3 linked regions of the Homo sapiens genome follow. The protein of the gene in region 1 purifies or fractionates together with the protein of each later gene. This does not show direct contact. Each region holds a gene or a part of one and is shown in the gene's direction. Other genes may lie near its edges.

Region 1 (7,027 bases):
CTGTTATTAAGTCAGCATAAACCCTTGACATATGGTAAAGGGGCTTTTCCTATCATTTTTCTTTTCTTTTTACAAATCCACTTTTACTGGTATTTATTTACTTTTCATTAGTTCAAATCCTTGAGGAGTACAGCATCACAGAGCCGCCGTGACTAGTGGCCTAAGCAGGACGGCTGCTTTGGAATTAGGCACACATTGTGCCACTGTTTCCGTGGGCACACGTTACCTTTCTCCACCTTACTCTGGTTTTGTTTGGTTTGCTGCCAGGAGTCAGTATTATTCTTTGTACACATAAGCGCATTTCCTGCCCAAATCAAATCTCATTTTATGTCAGCCATAAATACCTTCAGTTTTAAGAAGAGCTGTGTCCTCCCTTTGGTTCTGGAGATCCTGCTGACGGCAAAAACGGCCTTGGACCACAGCTTTCCAGGCATACTTGTCATTTAGAATTCCTCCTCCCAGCAGGCCTCCGGGCTTCAAGTTGGCAGGAACAGCAAGGGGGCTTTTCGGTAGATGCTGCTGGGACAATTGAGTATCTACTTGGAGAAAAAATGGAATTGGATTCATACTTTTGCACCCCGTACCAAAATCAAGTTTAGATGGATTGTGGATGCCCTCACGGTTGGGAATGGCTTTTACAAAAAGACAAAGAGGCATTAAATGTAATGAAAAAGTGATACGTTTGTGTACTTTTAAAATTGAGAATGTTTCCCAAAACACACGATTAAGAAAGTCAAAAGGCTAGCTGCAATGTAGGAGTTACTTACAACACGTGGTAAATCCTGACATCACAATTTTGAGCATAAGAAGCCAAACACTCAGTAATAAATCTTGCTTGATTGCATTTCTGTAGAGCTTAGAAACAGGCAAAACTAATTGTACTGTTTAGGGATGAATTCTTAGGTGATTAAACTCTAAAGAAAAGAATTTTTCTTGATTACTGTAAAGGCAGGACGGAAGGAGGGCCTTCTTAGTTGCTGGTTACCTGTAGTTCTTGACCTGGATGTTTACATGTACGTTGGCTTCATAACATACATGAATATACAATTTAATAAAATTGTATTAGGTACGTCTCTATATTTTTCTGTGAAACGCAAATAGTTTTTTAAATTGAATGTAATTTTTTCCTTTTCAATGGCTTAGTTGTATAAGAAAATATGTTTAGATTTTTAAAAAGCTGTTTTCTCCTGGTGTTTGGAATCTTTACATTTGTAGAGATTCACATAGGCCCTTTTGGCTAGGCTCAGATTGAGTAGATAACAAATCAAACCTTTAAGACTTTAGTTCTGTTGTAGTTTTAATAAAACAGAAGAAATAAATCTGTACCAGAATGAAAGTTAGATTTGGTATCTCTGCTTTTCAGTATCATCAAAGCTGAGATAGGAAAACCTGAATCTTTGGATGGTTTTATTGTTTCTCTTATTTTGTTTATTAACAATGAAAGGTACCTTCATATCTGCCTCCCACATATCCCTCTTTGAAAATCTTGTGACAGAATTAGTTTTGAATCTTTCTGAATTACTCTGTTGACCTAAACAATGTAAACAACATAGAAGGAAGGACATAATACAATTATGTACAATCAATATAATAAATGAAGTTTATTCCTGTAATAGAGAATTAAAAGGCCCACCTAGAGGTTGGGAAAGAAAGGTCAGTGCTAGGCCGGGCGCGGTGGCTCATGCCTGCAATCCCAGCACTTTGGGAGGCCAAGGCGGGCGGCTTGCCTGAGGTCAGAAGTTCGAGACCAGCCTGGCCAACATGGTGAAACCCCGTCTTTACTAAAAATACAAAAATTAGCCAGGCATGGTGGTGGGCACCTGTAATCCCAGCTACTCGGGAGGTTGAGACAGGAGAATTGCTTGAACCTAGGAGGCAGAGGTTGCAGTGAGCTGAGATCGTGCCATTGCACTCCCGTCTGGGTGACAAGAGCAAGACTCTGTCTCAAAAAAAAAAAAAAAAAAAAAGGGCCAGCGCTGTGATAGTAAATTCAGAGGTCGTGTCCTCTCCTGGGGTCTCAGCCACTCGTTTCTCGGTGGCGCTAGAGGTAAGGGTTGGGGAAGCTGTAAAGAGTATTGGTAGAATGGAAGGCACTGACAGCCCAAAGTCTCATGAAAGGATGAAAAATCAGTGAATAAATGAGAGTCTGAGTAAGATCAGGCAAATACTAAGGACTCTGTACTGGCTGTGATACCAAAAAGAAATCAAGGGATTGAGGAAAGCAATTAAAATACAAATCATTATTAGTGAACTTTAAATGTTTTAAACAATTATTTTACTAAGACTTCAGTAGGAAGACAGATCTATAACTTGGGGCTAGAGTAAGAGGTGTTGGAGGTAGACGGGGAACCAGGTGTAACAGGATGGAGAGATGGACAGTACACAGTGTATGTATGCATAAATGTGCACACGGACATATCCAGAAATGTTGAGGAATTTGTGTAGGATCGAGAGAGGATTAGGGTGGCTATTCCTGCAGATCATATGGGGCAGAAAAAAAAGGATTAGAGTGGCTGATCTTGAAGGAATATGGTCAATTAGTTGAGTAAAATTGATGAAGTAAAACTAAATAACTTATTACAGAATATAAAGAATGATAGGAGGGGAGAAGAAAGGGCTTCTCGGTGTAAATATTGGGTATGATCAAGCTAATGAATGTGACTGCTCCCTAGCTGGTCATGAAAATTCTCCTCAAGATTATTAAATCAGGGATTATGTCTTGTCCAAATATAAGTGAAATATTGTTTGTAACAATGATAAGTTACTTGGCTTTACATTTTAGTAACTACCCTTTCATGTTTCTTTAACTCTTGAAATATTTTATTAGGGGTTGAGCATTCATGATGGTACCTGGAAGTCAGCAATTTATGGTTTTGGAGATCAGAGTAATTTGAGAAAACTAAGAAATGTATCAAATCTGAAACCTGTCCCGCTCATTGGTCCAAAATTGAAGAGAAGGTAAATTAACTTAAAATCCATTTTTTATATATCTAGTCTAAGTATATTGTTGTTGGGTTGGCTATTAATAAAGTATGTTACTAAGAAAAGCTTGGAGACTAATTTGTAGTAAGTTCAGAATTGTTTTCACAGATAAATAAGATATAATTAATCCATTACCATATGCTTGAGATAAATAAGATATAATTAATCCATTACCATAAGCTTAAGATAAATAAGACATAATTAATCCATTACCATAAGCTTAAGTACTTCGTGTGTAATAAAACATGTGAATCCTAGGAAATAAGTGAATCTTATGATGACTTTTCACTATCAATATAGAAATTAACTGTCAACTAAATTTTATGTGAGAACTTTTTTTCTTTTTTAAAAATTTATTTTAGTTTAGTTTTATACTGCAGGACATATGTGAGAAGTTTAGAGGTAAGAATTTAGGGTTGGGCTGTTGAAAGGAGCGTTCTGGTTTTTTTTTTCTTTTGAGACAGAGTCTCTCTTTGTTGCCCAAGTTGGTCTCAAAGTCCTGGCCTTAAGTGATCCTCCTGCCTCGGCCTCCCAAAGTGCTGGGATTACAGGCATGAGCCACCATGCCCTGCCACTGATTTGCTTATTCAGACATTTACCAGCCAAAGTTGTAATTGCAGGAAATGCAAAATATTCATAGGTCTGTCTTGCAGGTGGCCAATTTCTTATTGTCGGGAACTCAAAGGTTATTCCATTCCTTTTATGGGATCTGATGTGTCTGTTGTAAGGAGGACTCAACGTTACTTGTATGAAAATTTAGAGGAATCACCAGTAAGTATATATGGTTTATTTATCAATAAAGTGTGTGTTACAGTTCCTCTTTCTATTCAGTGTGGGATATTTTTGTTTATAAGGCAGAAAAAGGAAGAGCTAAGTAATACATGTTTCAGCCTCTGGAAATACACAGAATCATTAGGGTAGAACATTTTGTATTTTATAACCTTGTCTTTTGATTCAGATCTGGCTGCTGAATATCTTTTTAATGTAACACAATAGCAGCAAATTCAATACGGGAAATCCTGCTGTCATAAGCACCCCAGAATCCCTGTTTAGGGTTTCAGTTGCTAGAAACTCTTTTGCTTGTGGAAATGTCTGGAACCCTTTCTGTCCCCTCTCTCCTTGCCACGCCTGGAGTTCCATCCTGCTGCTTTTGGCGAGGAAAGTAATTGCTTTCATTGCCGAGACTTCAGGAGGAAATTATATTTCAAGTTAAAAGGTGGAGGGCATTTTCTTATAGGAGTCTACGTTCTGTAATGTATGATTGCTAAGCTCAGATATATTAGGGATTATGTAGATTTTTGTGCCCAAGTAGGGGAAGCTAATTACTATTTATAAACAATTTTCTTTAAAAAGTAGACTATCATACTTCCTGTTCACCAGGTCTGACAAAACAAACAAAAAATAGGCTCCCAATGTCTGGTTTCTGAACAAGATTTCAGAACATAATGCATTTGTAAAGTGGAAACTGCTTTTGTTCCACATTTGTGATGGAAGAGAAAGGTACAAGTAACTAACATTCTTACTTGGTCCAAAATGTAGGGAGTAATGTTCTAACTTTGTCTTCTCCATCATCTAGGTTCAGTATGCTGCGTATGTAACTGTGGGAGGCATCACCTCTGTTATTAAGCTGATGTTTGCAGGACTTTTCTTTTTGTTCTTTGTGAGGTTTGGAATTGGAAGGCAACTTCTCATAAAAGTAAGTAAGATTTTATGAAATTAGATTATTTTTATTAGAAGTATTTTCCATGAGTTTTAAAAAAATATCACTGACGGTTTTTTTTTCCCTTTAGTTCCCATGGTTCTTCTCCTTTGGCTATTTTTCAAAACAAGGCCCAACACAAAAACAGGTAATTTCTTTTGTATTAAGACACTAAAATAATATTTTTCTTTGTGCAATGACGGTATCATCTAACACTTGACAGGGCACTATGTTTCAGATACTCTTTTAAGTTCTTTATGTAAATTAGATTATTCAATCTTTTCAAACACCCCTTGAATGTAGGTATTATTATTATCTCCATTTTACACATCAGAGAACTGAGGCACACAGAGGCTAAGAAACTTGCCCAAGTTTCTCCAGGTAGTACATGGCCCAGCTGGGATGAGAACCCAGCCATTTAGCTCCAGAAATTGTGTTCTCTTCACTTCCAGAAATCTCAAATATTCTTCTTCCTCCATTTTTCTCCTCTGTTATCTTTTCCTTTGTGCCTCCTCTGCCCCCAGTTTCACTTCCTCTTCCACATACCCTGGATTCCGACGGGGGATCAAGTGAATTTCTGTGTGTCCAGCATCCCCAACAATAGGACTGCCTCATTTTCTACCGTTTGGCTTACAGATCCCAACCCTGGCTCAGGCCTTGGGTCATTAGCTTTCATCTCCTTGACACCAGGCACTCCTGGGGGAAATCCCACTGCTGAACAGATGGTAGCAGCAAGTTCCCGTTTCCCCCTCTGTGGAATGTTAGCATCACTTGCTGATTCTTTTCCTTTTCGTTAGTCTTGCCTCTTATCTCCTCTCAGTGGCTTTCTTCAAAATCTACCCAACTGCAGCTGTCTTCCCTATCTGTAAATTATCCCAACTCCTACCTCACTAAAATAATTGAGAGCACTGTTTTGTATCCCCTCAAATTCCTACTCTCAGACCTATCATCATTGTTCCCATCCTGACCTTCTTTCCTCCTCTCTGGATGATATACTCCCTGTACAAGGCTAATCCCCGCCTGTGCACTTAACGTAGCATCATTGTTCCATCCCGACCTTCTTTCCTCCTCTCTGGATGATATGTTCCCTGTACAAGGCTAATCCCCCGCCTGTGCACTTAATGTAGGCACTGTGCAGGAATGCGCCACCACGCCCGGATAATTTTTTTGTATTTTTAGTAGAGACACGGTTTCACCAAGTTGGGCAGGCTGGTCTTGAACTCCTGACCTCGTGATCCACCTGCCTCAGCCTCCCAAAGTGCTGGGATTACAGGCGTGAGCCACTGCGCCCGGCCTCTTTTTTCTTCTTATTGTGGTAAAATACACAAAACATAAAATGTACCATCTTAACCATTTAAAAATGCTGAGTGGTATTAAGTACATTCATCTTTTTGTGCAGCCATCACCACCATCCATGTCCAGAACACTTTTCATCTTGCACAACTGAAACTCTACACCCGTGAAACAATAACTCCTCATTTCCGCCCTCCCCCAGCCCCGGCAACCGCATTCCGCTTTCTGTCTCTATGAATTTGATGACTCCAAGTGCCTCATGTAAATGGAATCAGTCTTTGTCTTTTTGTGACTGGCTTATTTCACCTAGCGTAAGGTCTTCAAGGTTCATCCATATTGTAAGCATGTGTTCGAATTTCTTTAAGGGTGAATGATTGTCTGTTGCCTGTCTGGATCACATTTTGTGTATCCATTCATTCATCAGTGAACACATGTGTTGCCTCCAGCTTTTGGCTATTGCCAGTTATGCTGCTGCGAACATGGGTGTACAGATACCTCTTCAAGACTCTGCTTTAAATTCTTTTGGGCATATACTCAGAAATGGAATGCTAGACCGTATGTGAATTGTATATTTAACTTCTTGAGGAACCACTAAACTGTTCTGCAGAGCTGCTGCACCGTTTTACCTTCCCACAAGCAGTATACGAGAGTTCCAGTTTCTCTGCTTCCAAACCGACATCTGTTATTTTCTGTAATGGCCGTGAGGTGGTGTCTCATTGTATTTTTGATTTGCATTTACCTGATGATTATTAGTGTTGAACATCTTTTCATTTGCAATTATTGGCCATTTGTATGTCTTCTTTGGAGAAAATATTTTCAAATCATATATTTGACAGAAGATTCATATCCAGAAAATATAGAGAACTCCTAGAACTCAATAACAAAAAACAACCTAATTCAAAAATGAACAGAAGGACTTGAAAATATTTTCTGTTATTCTTTGGGTTGCCGTTTTACTTTGTGGATAGTGCAGGCTTCTGTCTCGTGGTTGGTAGTGCAGGCTTCCATCTCTTGCTTGAACTTTTCGTAGCATTCCTACGGTTTCTTTCTAAT
Region 2 (7,056 bases), on another chromosome or scaffold:
GAAAGAAACCAAAAATCCATCAACTGATAGATAAAATGTGGTATATCCATATTATTAGAATTATAGTATCTATAGAATATTTTCAGCCATAAAGGAATAATGCACTGCTACATGCTGGTACACCATGGATGAACCCTTAAAACATGATGCTAGGTGAAAGAAGCCAGACACAAAAGGCCACACGTATGACTCCATGAAATGCCCACAATAGGCCAATCGACAGGAAAAGAAAGTAGATAGTGGTTGGCAAAGGAAGGAATAAGGAGTGACTGCTAATAGATAAGAAGTTTCTTTCTGGGGTGAGAAGAATGTTCTAGAGTTAGTGGTGACATTTTTACAAATTTCTGGCTATACTAAAAAAAAAAACCCACCGGGCCAGGCGCGGTGGCTCAGGCCTGTAATCCCAGCACTTTGGGAGGCTGAGGTAGGCAGATCACGAGGTCAGGAGATCGAGACCATCCTGGCTAACACAGTGAAACCCCGTCTCTACTAAAAATACAAAAACTTAGCCAGGTGTGGTGGTGGACGCCTGTAGTCCCAGCTACTCGGGAGGCTGAGGCAGGAAAATGGCATGAACTCAGGAGGCGGAGCTTGCAGTGAGCCAAGATTGCGCCACTGCACTCTAGCCTGGGCGACAGAGTGAGACTCCATCTCAAAAAAACAAAAAAAACACTGAATTTTGGCTCATACCTATAATCCCAGCACTGTGTGAGACCTAGGCAGGTGGATCACATGAGGCCAGGATTTCCTGTCCAGCCTGGCCAACATGGCAAAACCCCATCTCTATTAAAAATAAAAAAAATTAGCCAGACATGGTGGCACACGCCTGTAATCCTAGCTCCTCGGGAGGCTGGGGCACAAGAATATTGAACCCGGGAGGCAGAGGTTGCAGTAAGCCAAGATTGCGCCACCGCACTCCAGCCTGGGCTAAAGAACCAGTTTATCTCGAAAAATAAAAATAAATAAATAAAAAGGTTGGGGGCAGTGGCTCACACCTGTAATCCCAACACTTTCAGCGGCTGAATCACTTGAGCTCAGGAGTTCAAGACCGGCCTGGCCAACATGGCGAAAACCCATCTCTACAAAAAATACAAAAATTAGCTGCACGTGATGGTGCACACCTATGGTCCCCGCTACTTGGGAGGCTGAAGTGGAAGGATTGCTTGAGCTTGGGAGGCGGAGGTTGCAGTGAGCCAAGATCATGCCACTGCACGCCAGCCTGGGTGACAGAGGCAGACCCTGTCTCTAAACAACAAAAAACCCCACTGAATTGTATACGTTAAAAGGACTTTACATCACGTGAATTACATCTCAATGAGAAATAAAATACTGAATGAACGAATACGTGGACATAACTGCTTCCCAACTAGACTGTGTGGGCGGTGGGGAGCATGTTGCAGACATCTTGGATTCCACAGCCCCTGACACAAGGTAGGTAGTGGTAAATAAAGATGGTCAATGAATACCAGAACACGGGAGCTCAGTAAACAGCAGAGCACACTGAAAAATAAAAAGCACTCCAGACATCGAAGGTTTTATGCCCACACTTGTGCAAACATCCAACGACAGCTCCCACAGCACGCAGCAGGGCAGCGCAACGAAAACTGCCTTCAACTAGCAGCGACAAAACACCTTGATTCCAGTCCCAGCTCTGCTTCTAACTCACTGTGTACCCCTGAGTAAGTCCCTTCCCCTGCTGGACTATCTCAGGGGATTTGCGAGACCAACTGGACTTCATTCCTTTTCTGTCAACTTTTGTATTTCTTTAGTACTTCCTAGACAGAGGGAAGTGGCTTGTATTTTAAGTGCTAGAGGCAGCTTCCCAATTCCCCTAAGATAATGACAAGTGGAAAATGCTTATTTAATGTCAGCCTAGTAGCTGATCTTAGGCTTGCCCTGCACTTTTTTTTTCTTTTTAAATTTTGGAGGTCAGTCCCGCTGGCTGGCAAGGCAACATCTGTAAAAAAGCACTAGGCTGGCCGGGTGTGGTGGCTCACGCCTGTAATCCCAGCACTTTGGGAGGCCAAGGTGGGCGGATCATAAGGTCAGGAGATCGAGACCATCCTGGCTAACATGGTGAAACCCCGTCTCTACTAAAAATTCAACAAATTAGCCGGGCGTGGTGGTGGGCGCCTGTAGTCCCAGCTATTCGGGAGGCTGAGACAGGAGAATGGCGTGAACCCGGGAGGCAGAGCTTGCAGTGAGCCGAGATCAGGCCACTGCACTCCAGCCTGGGCGACACAGCGAGATTCCATCTTTAAAAAAAAAGCACTAGACTGGTGGTCCGAGTCCATATTCTGTCAGTATTCAGGTGTGAGGGTTTCAGGCAAATCGCATCCTTTAACCCCCTCAGCTGTAACACAGGGACACCAGCATAAACTTAATTTGACAAATGTTTCTTGAGGCCTAACATATGCACAACTTTGGTCTACGTATCAAGGACTGTAAAGGTGACTGGACCCCTTTCCTCTGCCCTAACCTTCTAAGGAAGGCAAACAGGTGCATCTTGTACTAGAAGCAGGAATGACTCAGACCAAATGTACTATATGACGGGCCATAAAGGAATAAAGTATTGATGCATGCTCATAAACCATGGATGAACCTTGAAAACACTATGCTTAGGGGTGGGGGGAAGAAAGATTATTTGGGACCAGGGCATAATGAAGAGATGGTTGGAATTATTAAGGAAACTGTGAGGGTAGGGGCGGGGCGGGATCTCGTTTATCTGTGCCCTAAGAGCCCCCACAAAAGTCCGGCACACAGCCCGTATCCTAGGGCTTCCGACGCTGGGTAATGGGTAACAAGAGACAGAAGACATGTTTCTCCAATGTAAGTCACGCAGGGCGGTGGTGGATGACAGAGCTGGCCCACAGTCCCGCCAGAGCCAGAGAGCCTAGAAGGATAGTGCATGCAGCTCGTCCCGCCCACCGCACGGGTTTGATGGATGTGGGGTGGGGATGGGGGGGGAAATAGATGAATAATGAACCAACGAACGACGCGCAGGTGGCTACTGGCTCGCGCCAGCGGAGAGAAAGGCGTGAGCAGCCTCGCTGATACCTGCGAAGCCGCTATAGTGGGACCCAGGCTCGTAGTGCCTCCGGCCGGAGGACACATCGTAGACACGGCCGAGCAACGCCAAGTACAGGCCCGGGTCCCCTGGGCCGCCGCGGTAGCGAGACAGCTCCTCCGGTATGAAAAGGCGAAAGCCAGCGCGGGGACCCCACCAGCCCATAAGCCGTGCTGCCATTACCGCTGCTGCGGCTACAGCCAGGCCCAACAAAAGCCCACGGCCTCCGCACCTCAACATCTATATAGGCCCACCCGCTCCGCACTTCCGAGGTTGCCGCCTCTATCTACAGCTAAGATGGCCGAGACGCCGAGCGTGACGTCATCGGCGCGCGCGCTCTCGCTCTCTCTCTCGCGCGCTAGTGCTCGCGCTCCCTCCCTTAGTCTCTCTCGTTTTATCTGTATTCCTGGCACTGGCGAAAAGCTCGCTGTCTGCGACTTTTTCCAGGTACTTTTTTTTTTTTTTTCTGAGACAGAGTTTTAGCTCTTGTTGTCCAGGCTGGAGTGCACTGGCGGAATCTCGGCTCACTGCAACCTCCGCCTCCCGGGTTCAAGCGATTCTCCTGCCTCAGCCTCCCAAGTAGCTGGGATTACAGGCACGCGCCCCCACGTCCGGCTAATATTTTGTATTTAGTAGAGACAGGGTTTCACCACGTTGGTCAGGCTGGTCTCGAACTCCTGACCTCAGGTGATCCACCCGTCTCGGCCTCCCAAAGTGCTGGGATTACAGGCGTGAGCCACCGCGCCTGGCCCTTCTCGTACTTCTTGGCTTGCAGGTTGTCAGCCCCAACAAAGATGGCGGCAGCGGAGGCTACGGAATGACGTAGATACTGAGACAGACTCGTCCTCTGGGAAATCAAGGTTGCACCCTTTGAGGCGGCGCTCCCCGCCTAGCTGTCGTGAGTTGGTAGAGGCCGCCTATCTACGTGACGGCGCCTTTGCGACAGCGGTCGTCGCTTGACGGCCAGGAAGCCGGAAGCCGCAGGGGCCGCCGTCGTCTCCTCCGCGTCCCCGCCCGCCAGCTGCTGTCGGAGGTTGACAGGTCGAGGCGGGGAGGCGGCGGCGGCGGCTGCAGAGCCAGGCGCCCAAGACGGAGACCCCATGGGGAACGCTCCGAGTCACAGCAGTGAAGACGAAGCGGCAGCTGCCGGTGGCGAGGGCTGGGGCCCACACCAGGACTGGGCCGCGGTCTCGGGCACGACCCCCGGCCCGGGCGTCGCGGCTCCAGCGCTACCACCCGCCGCGGCGCTGCTGGAGCCGGCCAGGCTGCGAGAGGCTGCTGCAGCGTTGCTGCCCACACCCCCCTGCGAGTCGCTGGTGTCGAGGCATCGCGGCGCGTTGTTTCGCTGGCTGGAAGAGCGGCTGGGCCGCGGCGAAGAGTCTGTCACTCTGGAGCAGTTCCGGGAGCTGCTGGAGGCTCGCGGCGCCGGCTGCTCTAGCGAGCAGTTCGAGGAGGTCAGGGCCGGCAGGCGACTGCGGGGATGGGGCAGGGCGGTCGCCCCCAGGGGACTGAAGGAAGAGGTGGGCATTTGCTTTGGAGAGGCCAGGCGGGGACCCATATGAGGTGTTTCCAGCTTTTCACCAGGCGTTTGCTTCGTTTCTCTTTAACCTATGTTAGAGGTCTGGAAAGTCTGCATCAGGCCGTCCTTGCTCTGAAGAGCTGGACAAGCCCATATGTCTCTCTCTGTATGTTGTAATGCAGACCTTTGTGCAGTTGATTGACGCTACTCTGGAGATCTTCTATCAGATTCTCGAACAGTTTGGAGAGAAAAGAGATGTAAGGATAGGAGGAGTGGCGCTGAGAACCATTTTTTGTATTGTCCTGTCCAGGTTTTTACACAGCACCTTCCCAATTCAGTGTGGGCGCCGAATAAGTGTGGAAAGACAGTAGTAACATGCTGGAAAGGCTCACATTCTAAAACCTATCCTCCTCATGCAAAAACTAGCTTTTCTAAAATACATACTGGTTTGTAGATCCTTAAAGAACCATATATTAGACTCATTTAAACCTTCATAGGATCCGAAACTGATAGGCAAATACCAGGTTTCCTGTGAATACTTGTAATTATGCAGTTCTTCATATAATCACCAAGATCATGTCTGCTAAGTCATTAAGAGAGCAAATTGATTTGGCAACAAAATATTTTCCTTGGAAGGCATTTTGGGAGTTTATTTACTGGGCGCTTCACTTCGAGTTAAGAAGACTGATCCAGGGTTACCCAGTGAATCATTAGTAAAACAGACTATCAACTAGATCTCTTGCTTTTTTTTTTTTTCTTTCTTTCAACTTTTATTTTAAATTCAGGCGTACATGTGCAGGATTTGGATTTGCAGATGTATTACATAGGTAAACGTGTGCCATGGTGGTTTACTCCACACAGCATCCCATCACCCAGGTATTAAGCCCAGCATCCATTAGGTATTCTTCCTGATGCTCTCTCTCCCTCCACCCGCACCCTATTTTTTGTTTTTAATGTCTCACTACCTCCTTCCTGGGATCCTATTTCTTTTAACACCACGGTATGACCAAAAAGGTACTTATTTTGTGAAAATGAGTTAGCCAGTCATGTAGAATCTTCAGTGGCCACGAAGGGTGTGTACATAAAGCAGTAAACCAGCGGGTACTTGCAGTGCCTTTAAAAGGTTCTGTTCACCTTAAAATCAGAGGCTTTTAAAATATTTTAAGAATGTCTTCCTGTACATGGCCAGAATTCAGATAATGTAGTTTGTGTGTTTCTTATGAAAAAAGTACCTTTAAGGCATCCCAACCCTTAAAAATAATAGTCATGGCTGGGCGCAGTGGCTCACGCCTGTAATCCCAGCACTTTGGGAGGCTGAGGCGGGAGGATCATCTGAGGTCAGGAATTCAAGACCAGCCTGGCCAACGTGGTGAAACCCCACCTCTACTAAAAATACAAAAATTAGCTGGGCATGGTGGCGGGTGCCTGTAATCCCAGCTACTTGGGAGGCTGAGGTGGGACAACCGCTTGAACCCAGGAGGCGGAGGTTGCAGTGAGCTGAGATCACGCCACTGCATTCCAGCCTGGGCCTCAGAGCGATACTCTGTCTCAAAAAAAAAAAAAAAAGTCATATTAGTTAGTGAAAGATCTCCTTTTTTTTTCCCCCCAGGAATACACATAGTACCTTCTTTCTAGTATCTACGCGTATTATGAGAATATGAAGTAGTAGTGGGAAGAACCATGCAGAACTGTTGAAGGAGATGGCACTTTGCAGATTTGAGCAAAGGCAAATGGAGAGAAACACCGTTTACATTCTGAGAGTTTCTGACAGAAATAGAACTTTATGTAGAGTTCATAGGAGTCCCTTAATAGAAGGTCAAGAAATACTTGAGGTGTGGTCCAGAAATCACTCAGGGGTTGTGGCATTATTGTTCACTGAGCAAATGTTTATTGGGCGTATATCGAGTGCCACTCACTTGGATGACAGTGGACAAAGCAGATACTTGCTCTTAAAGAGTATGTAGTTGTGGTGGAAGAGACAGGTATTAACCCATTAATTATAAGATATGGTGAGTGTTAACCGAGGGGGAAGGTATAAGGAATAAATAGCAAGTGTATTTAACCTCACTTGGGGCTCAAGCAAGACTTACCTGAGAAGGTAACATTTCAGCCCACAGGTGAATGGTGAAAGCAGATAGTGTTACAGGAGGTAGTAACAGCGTTTCAGGCAGAGGAAATTGTATCCACAAAAGTTCAAAGTCCAGAGAATCTGGAAGAAGTCTGGTGTGGTGTATTAGGGATACACAAAACTTTTTCAAGGGACAGAAAACCTAATGCATCAGTGGTTTAAACATAAAAAGAAGCTGCTTCCTTATGAAAATGTCCAGGTAGGCAGTCCAAGATTGATGTGGCAGTGTTGTCATCATCAGGGACCTGGCTTCGTCCATCTTGTGCTGTCATCCTCCACGGACATCTTCCACTTAGTAATTCTGTTGACTCCTGCTGTCATTTTCCACATTCCAACAAGCAA
Region 3 (7,027 bases), on another chromosome or scaffold:
GGAGAGTGGAGAGTAGCTAAGACAAGAAGCGACAGTTTCCTCTTTCACACTAGAATATCCTGTTGTGCTCTGTAGCATCAGACATCGATGAGTCATCAGTGATGCAGCTGGCCGAGATGGGTTTCCCGCTGGAAGCATGTCGCAAGGCTGTGTACTTCACTGGAAATATGGGCGCCGAGGTGGCCTTCAACTGGATCATTGTTCACATGGAAGAGCCAGGTAGGTGGCGAGAAAATGGAATGGCTTTGGAGTCTGATGTGACCCTCAGTGATGCTGAGTCCTGGTCCTTCCAAGGTCCCTGTGGATGTATCCCTAGAAAATGACTTTATAGTTCCTAATCTCCTGCAGTGGAGGAGAAAGCCAGTCTTTTTCTTCTTCTTTTTTTTTTTAAAAACAGCAGCTTTAGGCCAGGCGTGGGGGCTCATGCCTGTAATCCCAGCACTTTGGGAGGCCAAGGCAGGCGGATCACGAAGTCAAGAGATGAAGACCATCCTGGCCAACATAGTGAAACCCCATCTCTACTAAAGATACAAAAATTAGCTGGGCATGGTGGTGCGTACCTGTAGTCCCAGCTACTCAGGAGGCTGAGGCAGGAGAATCGCTTGAACGCAGGAGGCGGAGGCTGCAGTGAGCCAAGATTGCACCACTGCACTCTGGCCTGAGTGACAGAGCGAGACTCTGTCTCAAAAAAACAAACAAACAAAAAAACAACAAAAAAAACCCCAAACAGCTTTATTGAGATATAATTCATCCCTTTAAAGTGTATAAGTCAGTGGCAAAAAGACCAATAGAAAGATACGGGATATACTTCTAACTAAGCGATGATGAAAATTTGAAATGGAAACATGGGCATGAAGAAATGGAGGATGTTTAGTTAGCTTTTTCTTTTATCTACTTTATTAAGCTATAATGCATATATTCATCTGTTTAAAGTGTACATTTCAATGGTTTTTCATAAATTCACAGTTGTGTAACCATTACCACTATCAAATTTTAGAACATTTTGTACCCTTCAAAAGAAATCTCATACATAATAGCAGTCACTCCCCATTTTCCTGCTCACCCCAGCCCCTGGCAACCACGAATCTGTTTTCTGGATCAAGGGATTTGCCTGTTTTGGACATTTCATATAAATGGAGTCATATAATAAAAGGTCGTTTGTGTTTGGTTTCTATCACTTAGCATAGTGCTTTCAAGATTCATCTATGTTGTAGCATGTGTCAGTACTTCATTCCTTTTTACGGTAAAATAATAGTCTGTTGGGTCGGGTTTGGTGGCTTACGCCTGTAATCCCAGCACTTTGGAAGGCCAAGGCAGGAGGATCATTTGAGGTCAAGAGTTCAAGACCAGCCTGGCCAACATGGTGAAACCCCATCTCTATTAAAAATGCAAAAATTGTCTGGGCATGGTGGCGGGCACCTGGAGTCTCAGCTACTTGGGAGACTGAGGCAGGAGAATTGCTTGAGCCCAGGAGACGGAGGTTGCAGTGAGCTGAGATCACGCCACTGCCCTCCAGCCTGGGCAACAGAGTGAGACTCCATCTAAAATAATAATAATAATAACAATAATAATAGTCTATTTTATGGGTATACTATATTTTATTAATCTTTATCAGTTCATGGACATTTGGGTTATTTACATTTTTTGGCTTTTATGAACAATGCTGCTATAAACATTTTTTACAAGTTTTTGTGTGGATGGACATTTATTTTTACTTCTCTTGAGTGGAATTGCCATGTCATATGGTAACTCTATATTTAATTTTGAGGAACGACCAAACTGTTTTACACAGTGGCTGAACCATTTTACATTTCCACCAGTAATGAATGTGAGTTCCAATTTCTCCATATCATCACTAACCCTTATTATTATCTTTTTTATCATACCCATCCCAGTGGGTATGAAGTGGTATCTTGTGGTTTTGGTTTGCATTTTCCTAATGACTAATGATGTTGAACAACTTTTCGTATGTTTATTGACTGTATATCTTATTTGGAGATATGTCTATTCAAATTCTTTGCCCATTTCTAATGAAGTTATCCTTTTATTATTGAGTTCTAAGAGTTCTTTACAAATTCCAGATACGAGTTTCTATGAGATATATGATTTGTGTTTTCCCCCCCATTCTGGTGTTTTTTCACTTTCTTGATGGTATCCTTTGAAGCACAAACATTTTTAATTTTGATGATGTCCAATTTATCTTTTTTTTCTTTTATCACTTGTGCTTTTTGTGTTGTAAATAAGAAACCATTGCCTAATCCAATGGCAAAGACTTACTCCTGTGTTTTCTTCTAAGATTATTATAGTTTTAGCTCCTATATTTAGGTCAATGAGCCATTTTGAGTTAATTTTGTGTATGATGTGAGGTGAGGGTCTGACTTTATTCTTTTGTATGTGGATATCCAGTTGTCCCAGCATCATTTGTTGAAAATAATGTCCTTTCCCCACTGAATGGTCTTGTTGAAAATCAGTTAACCACAGGTATATGGTTTTATTTCTGGAATCTCAATTCTATTTAATCGATCCATATGTCTGCCTATATACCAGTACCAGACTGTCTTTTTTTTTGAGACAGAGCCTTGCTCTCTTGCCCAGGCTGGAGTGCAGTGGTGCAATCTCAGCTCACTGCAACCTCCGCCTCTTGGGTTCAAGCGATTCTTGTGCCTCAGCCTCCCAAGTAGCTGGATTACAGGTGTGCACCACCATGCCCTGCTAATTTTTGTATTTTTAGTAGAGACAGGATTTTGCCATGTTGGCCAGGCTGGCCACGAACTCCTGACCTCAGGCGATCCACTCGCCTTGGCCTCCCAAAGTGCTGGGATTACAGGCATGAGCCACTGCGCCTGGCCCAGACTGTCTTGATTATTATAACTTTGTAGAATCATGTTTTTCCTTGTTAGTGTTGTTTCAGGACAAAAAAAAAAAAAAAAAAAGGAAAAGACTTGGGTGTGGTTATTTTTCTCAGATTTTGCTGAGCCGCTGACCATGCCTGGTTATGGAGGGGCAGCTTCTGCTGGAGCCTCTGTTTTTGGTGCTTCTGGACTGGATAACCAACCTCCAGAGGAAATCGTAGCTATCATCACCTCCATGGGATTTCAGCGAAATCAGGCTATTCAGGCACTACGAGCAACGGTGAGCATGAGAGACTGTGTGTGTGTGTGTGTGTGTGTGTGTGTGTGAATTTATTTCTGTAGCAGTTGAGACTTTCCAATGTACTTTGATCATTTTGATTCATGTTTGATTCATCTAACTGTGAATCTCATCATAGCCCATAAAGATTTATTTGCATATTATAAATATAAAGCTAAAATGAATGATTTTCACACAGCGAATGAGATAAATAAATCTGGGGTAATATGAGCAAACTGAAAGAAACTTGATATCATCTTGAATGTTTGTTAACAGGGGGTCAGAAATTTGACTTGGAGGCTGCTTGTGGCCCTAGAGGAAAGAGGGATGCATGAAATTCCATGTTCAGTAAGAAGTCCTTTAGGAGATAGAATGCTTTTCTGATACCAAGACCTTGGGTAAATGTCTCTTAAAAGTCCTCATAGAAAACTGAATGGCTCCTTGGAATTCTCTGCTGCTGTTTCTCTCTGCAGAAAGAGAAGGTTCTTCTGGTAGCCATGAACTTCTTGATACCAAGAAACAAGGGACTCTGAAACTACAGGGTAGACAATTCCCTTCTGCAGTGCTGATATCTGTTTAATCTTGAGGGAAGGTACTTAAAAAACAAAACAAAACCCATCCTTCCTGGTCACACCATAATCCATTTTTGAGTAGATATCTGCTCTCAATTACTTCTTGCCTATCCTGATGGGGTGCCTGCTAGGATCCGTTGCTGAGGTCACAGTGGCTCTTGATTGTCTCATGAGGATGTGGCTAGGACAACCTGTCTCCCTTTAAGATGATTAAAATATCTCAACCAGAGTTTGTTTTACTTGGGGTACTTTCTTGTGCTCCACTCATTTTATTTGCCTGACTGTTTCATTAGAGGTTTTATATCTATACAAATTCTTTAACCTGCCAGAAATATCACAAGCTGAGAAAGATGGAAATATTTTTATGGTCAATTAGTTTGAAGTACATGGAGTTCAGTTTAAACAATTATACTTAACTAATCAGTGTTGTTGTCATTAATCAAGATATTAATCTTGTCTTTACTGGAATTCAAACATTTTACCAACATTCCAGGAGAGAAGGCTCTAACATAATACCACACTGGCATCCCTCTATTGTTCAGTTATCTGCAGAAAATACAGTTGGTAGAGAAGGTAGTGTGTGCAATTAAAGTGGCTTTAGAAAGAGCTGCACTTAAACAAATGCCATACCCTTGGTTATTCCACACCTATTATTATCAGCATCTTCCTGCAGAAAAGCTGAGCTAACATTGATATAAACTTTGGAATGCTGATCTGCTGCTTAGAACTCTTTTCCAGTGAATCCAATTACAGATGTCAGCTGGGAGACTTGCAGAATGCCATGCCAACTGAACGTGCCTGTCATGCGGAGTCAGAGCTTCTTACTCAGTGGCACTTAGGACTAATTAATTCAGACCTCCTTCCCTATCTGCCTGACATCTAGTTGAAATGGTCAGGACATAGTGAGGCCTGAGGCTGCATGCATTGTAAAAACATCTGTTTCTTTTTTGTTGTTAGAATAATAACCTGGAAAGAGCACTGGATTGGATCTTTAGCCACCCTGAGTTTGAAGAAGACAGTGATTTTGTGATTGAGATGGAGAATAATGCCAATGCAAACATTATTTCTGAGGCCAAGCCCGAAGGACCTAGAGTCAAGGATGGATCTGGAAGTAAGTTCTTGCCTTAGAGGCTGTCTGAGCAGTCAGAACTATACGTTCAGCTCATGCCCTTCCCTCCCACCACAACATAGTCAAGCCTTTGCCATCATTCAAAAGTTAGCACAGATCCCATCTTCTTCGTTTTTTTTTTTTTTCTTTTTTGAGACAGAGTCTCACACTGTTGCCAGGCTGGTGTGCTGTGGCGCGATCTCGGCTCACTGCAACCTCCGCCTCCCAGGTTCAAGCCATTCTCCTGCTTCAGCCTCCCGAGTAGCTGGGATTACAGGCATGTGCCACCACACCCAGCTAATTTTTGTATTTTTAGTAGAGACGGGGATTCACCATGTTGGCCTGGCTGGTCTTGATCTCCTGACCTCGTGATATGCCTGTCTCGGCCTCCCAAAGTGCTGGGATTACAGGCATGAGCCACCATGCCTGGCCAGATCCCATCTTCTTAGAAATGGTGCAGTTTGCCACTTTGCATAGGCCCCGGTGATCTGATAAAGTCATGTCAGAATCATGTTGCTTGGTCATGTTTGTGCCCAAGTTTAGGGCCAACTTTGATTTTGTCTGTTCCTTTGAGGTAAAATTTCTTCATGGACCATGGGAGCTTTTGTCAAAAAGAGAACATTTGTTTTCATGGTAGTGTTTTTTGAGTAGTAGCAAAGTGGTCTCATCCTTGATCATATCGTTACCCGTACCAACTACTAATAATATCCTGAAGGGGTGTCTCAGGATGACAGGAAGAGGCGCCATAGGCCGTTGTTCTGCCTTTTAATAGCAAACACTTATGTATGTCACTATGTGCCAGGCACTGTTCTAAGCACTTTGCATATCAACACTCATGTAATTCTCACTACAACTGATTTTACAGGTGAGAAAATATAAGCATAGAGAGCTTGGGTACCTTGCCAAAGGCCACACAGCTCTTAAGAGATGGAGCCAAGATTCAAACCCAGAATCCTTGTTCTTAACCTTTGTGATATCCTGTTTCTTGGGCTGTCATTGCCTGTAGAATAACATTCAGGCTCTTTAGCTTGGCATTCAGCACCTCCTCCAGTCAGATCCAGGCCACCTGGTCTCCCAGTGTCACTTCTATACTCCCTATACCTGCAGCTGAGATGCCTGGGACTGTAGCCACACTCTTAGCCTACTCAGCTGTCAACAACTCTCTTCTCACTTAACCTGCAGACTCAGGTTAACCCCTATTTGTGAAATGAGCCTTCTCTCCCATCACTGCACACTAAAATTCTCATCATTATTTAGAACTTGGCCACAGATTCCATTTCTCTGGACTGCCTTCCTAGATCCTTGTCATAATCAGCTCATGCTTACCTCATATGCTAGCAATAATTATACCAGTATGAAAAATACTCCCATTTGTGCCATCTTTAATCCTCACAGTAACCTTATGAGGTACATACCATTATTATCCCCATTTTACAGGTGAAGAACCTGAGATAGAGAAGGCTAAGTAATAGCTTGTCAAGGTCTCATAGCTAGTGATGGATAGAACCACAATTCCAGTGCAGGCAGTCTGCCTCCAGAGCCTGTGCCTGTAGCCACTGTAATGCATTGTTAGTTTTTTTTGGTTTTTTTTTTTTTTGAGACAGAGTCTCACTCCATCACCCAGGCTGGAGTGCAGTGGCACGATCTTGGCTCACTGCAACCTCCACCTCCCAGGTTCAAGCGATTCTCCTGCTTCAGCCTCCCGAGTAGCTGGAATTACAGGTTTGGGCCACCACGCTCCCTTGTTAGTTCTTCTGTTGTTGGAGGTATCAAGTTGATCTTGCAATAAAATTACTTCTGTAGGTATTTGTGTCTCCCATTTGACTAGGAGCTTGCCCAGGGCAGAGGCCATTTGGCTTTTATAAAACTCATGGTGTCTAGCATGGTGCTAGACACATAGAAAGTACTGAGTAAATAACAGTTGTATTTAACTAAATCTACACTAGCAGCATTTGTTCCTATAATCATATAGTGGCAGATTTACTCATTAATGTTCTTTCCAGACCTAACATGTACGTATTCATATACAGATAGAAAGAGACGGTGGGAGGGAACTGTCTTCTTCTTTTTTTTAATATAAAATAGGAATTTCATCACTGAAACTGTTTCAATGCCAACTGGATAAGAAAGGATGAGATGTCGTTCTCCCAATTTCCATACTCATTTAAAGTATCTGGTATTACTTTTCAGAAATTACTAGCTTGCCTAAAATATTTAA

What was found. The genes of interacting proteins can lie anywhere in the genome.
Region 2: the proteins of SCCPDH (region 1) and ZZEF1 purify together in Homo sapiens (affinity purification with mass spectrometry; 2 studies listed by BioGRID and IntAct, with this or other methods). This does not show direct contact.
Region 3: the proteins of SCCPDH (region 1) and USP13 purify together in Homo sapiens (affinity purification with mass spectrometry; 4 studies listed by BioGRID and IntAct, with this or other methods). This does not show direct contact.

Annotation. Positions count from the first base shown.
Region 1 is NC_000001.11:246,755,399-246,762,425, forward strand, and holds part of SCCPDH (saccharopine dehydrogenase-like oxidoreductase), read left to right. Parts: intron 1-2,827; coding exon 2,828-2,958; intron 2,959-3,635; coding exon 3,636-3,753; intron 3,754-4,558; coding exon 4,559-4,678; intron 4,679-4,772; coding exon 4,773-4,829; intron 4,830-7,027.
Region 2 is NC_000017.11:4,140,007-4,147,062, reverse strand, and holds the start of ZZEF1 (zinc finger ZZ-type and EF-hand domain-containing protein 1), read left to right. Parts: upstream 1-4,032; 5' UTR 4,033-4,167; coding exon 4,168-4,521; intron 4,522-7,056. Other genes in the region: CYB5D2 (neuferricin isoform 1 precursor), read right to left, coding at 3,058-3,307. UniProt on the Homo sapiens protein: Histone H3 reader which may act as a transcriptional coactivator for KLF6 and KLF9 transcription factors.
Region 3 is NC_000003.12:179,761,037-179,768,063, forward strand, and holds part of USP13 (ubiquitin carboxyl-terminal hydrolase 13), read left to right. Parts: intron 1-75; coding exon 76-219; intron 220-2,965; coding exon 2,966-3,132; intron 3,133-4,658; coding exon 4,659-4,812; intron 4,813-7,027. UniProt on the Homo sapiens protein: Deubiquitinase that mediates deubiquitination of target proteins such as BECN1, MITF, SKP2 and USP10 and is involved in various processes such as autophagy, endoplasmic reticulum-associated degradation (ERAD), cell cycle progression or DNA damage response.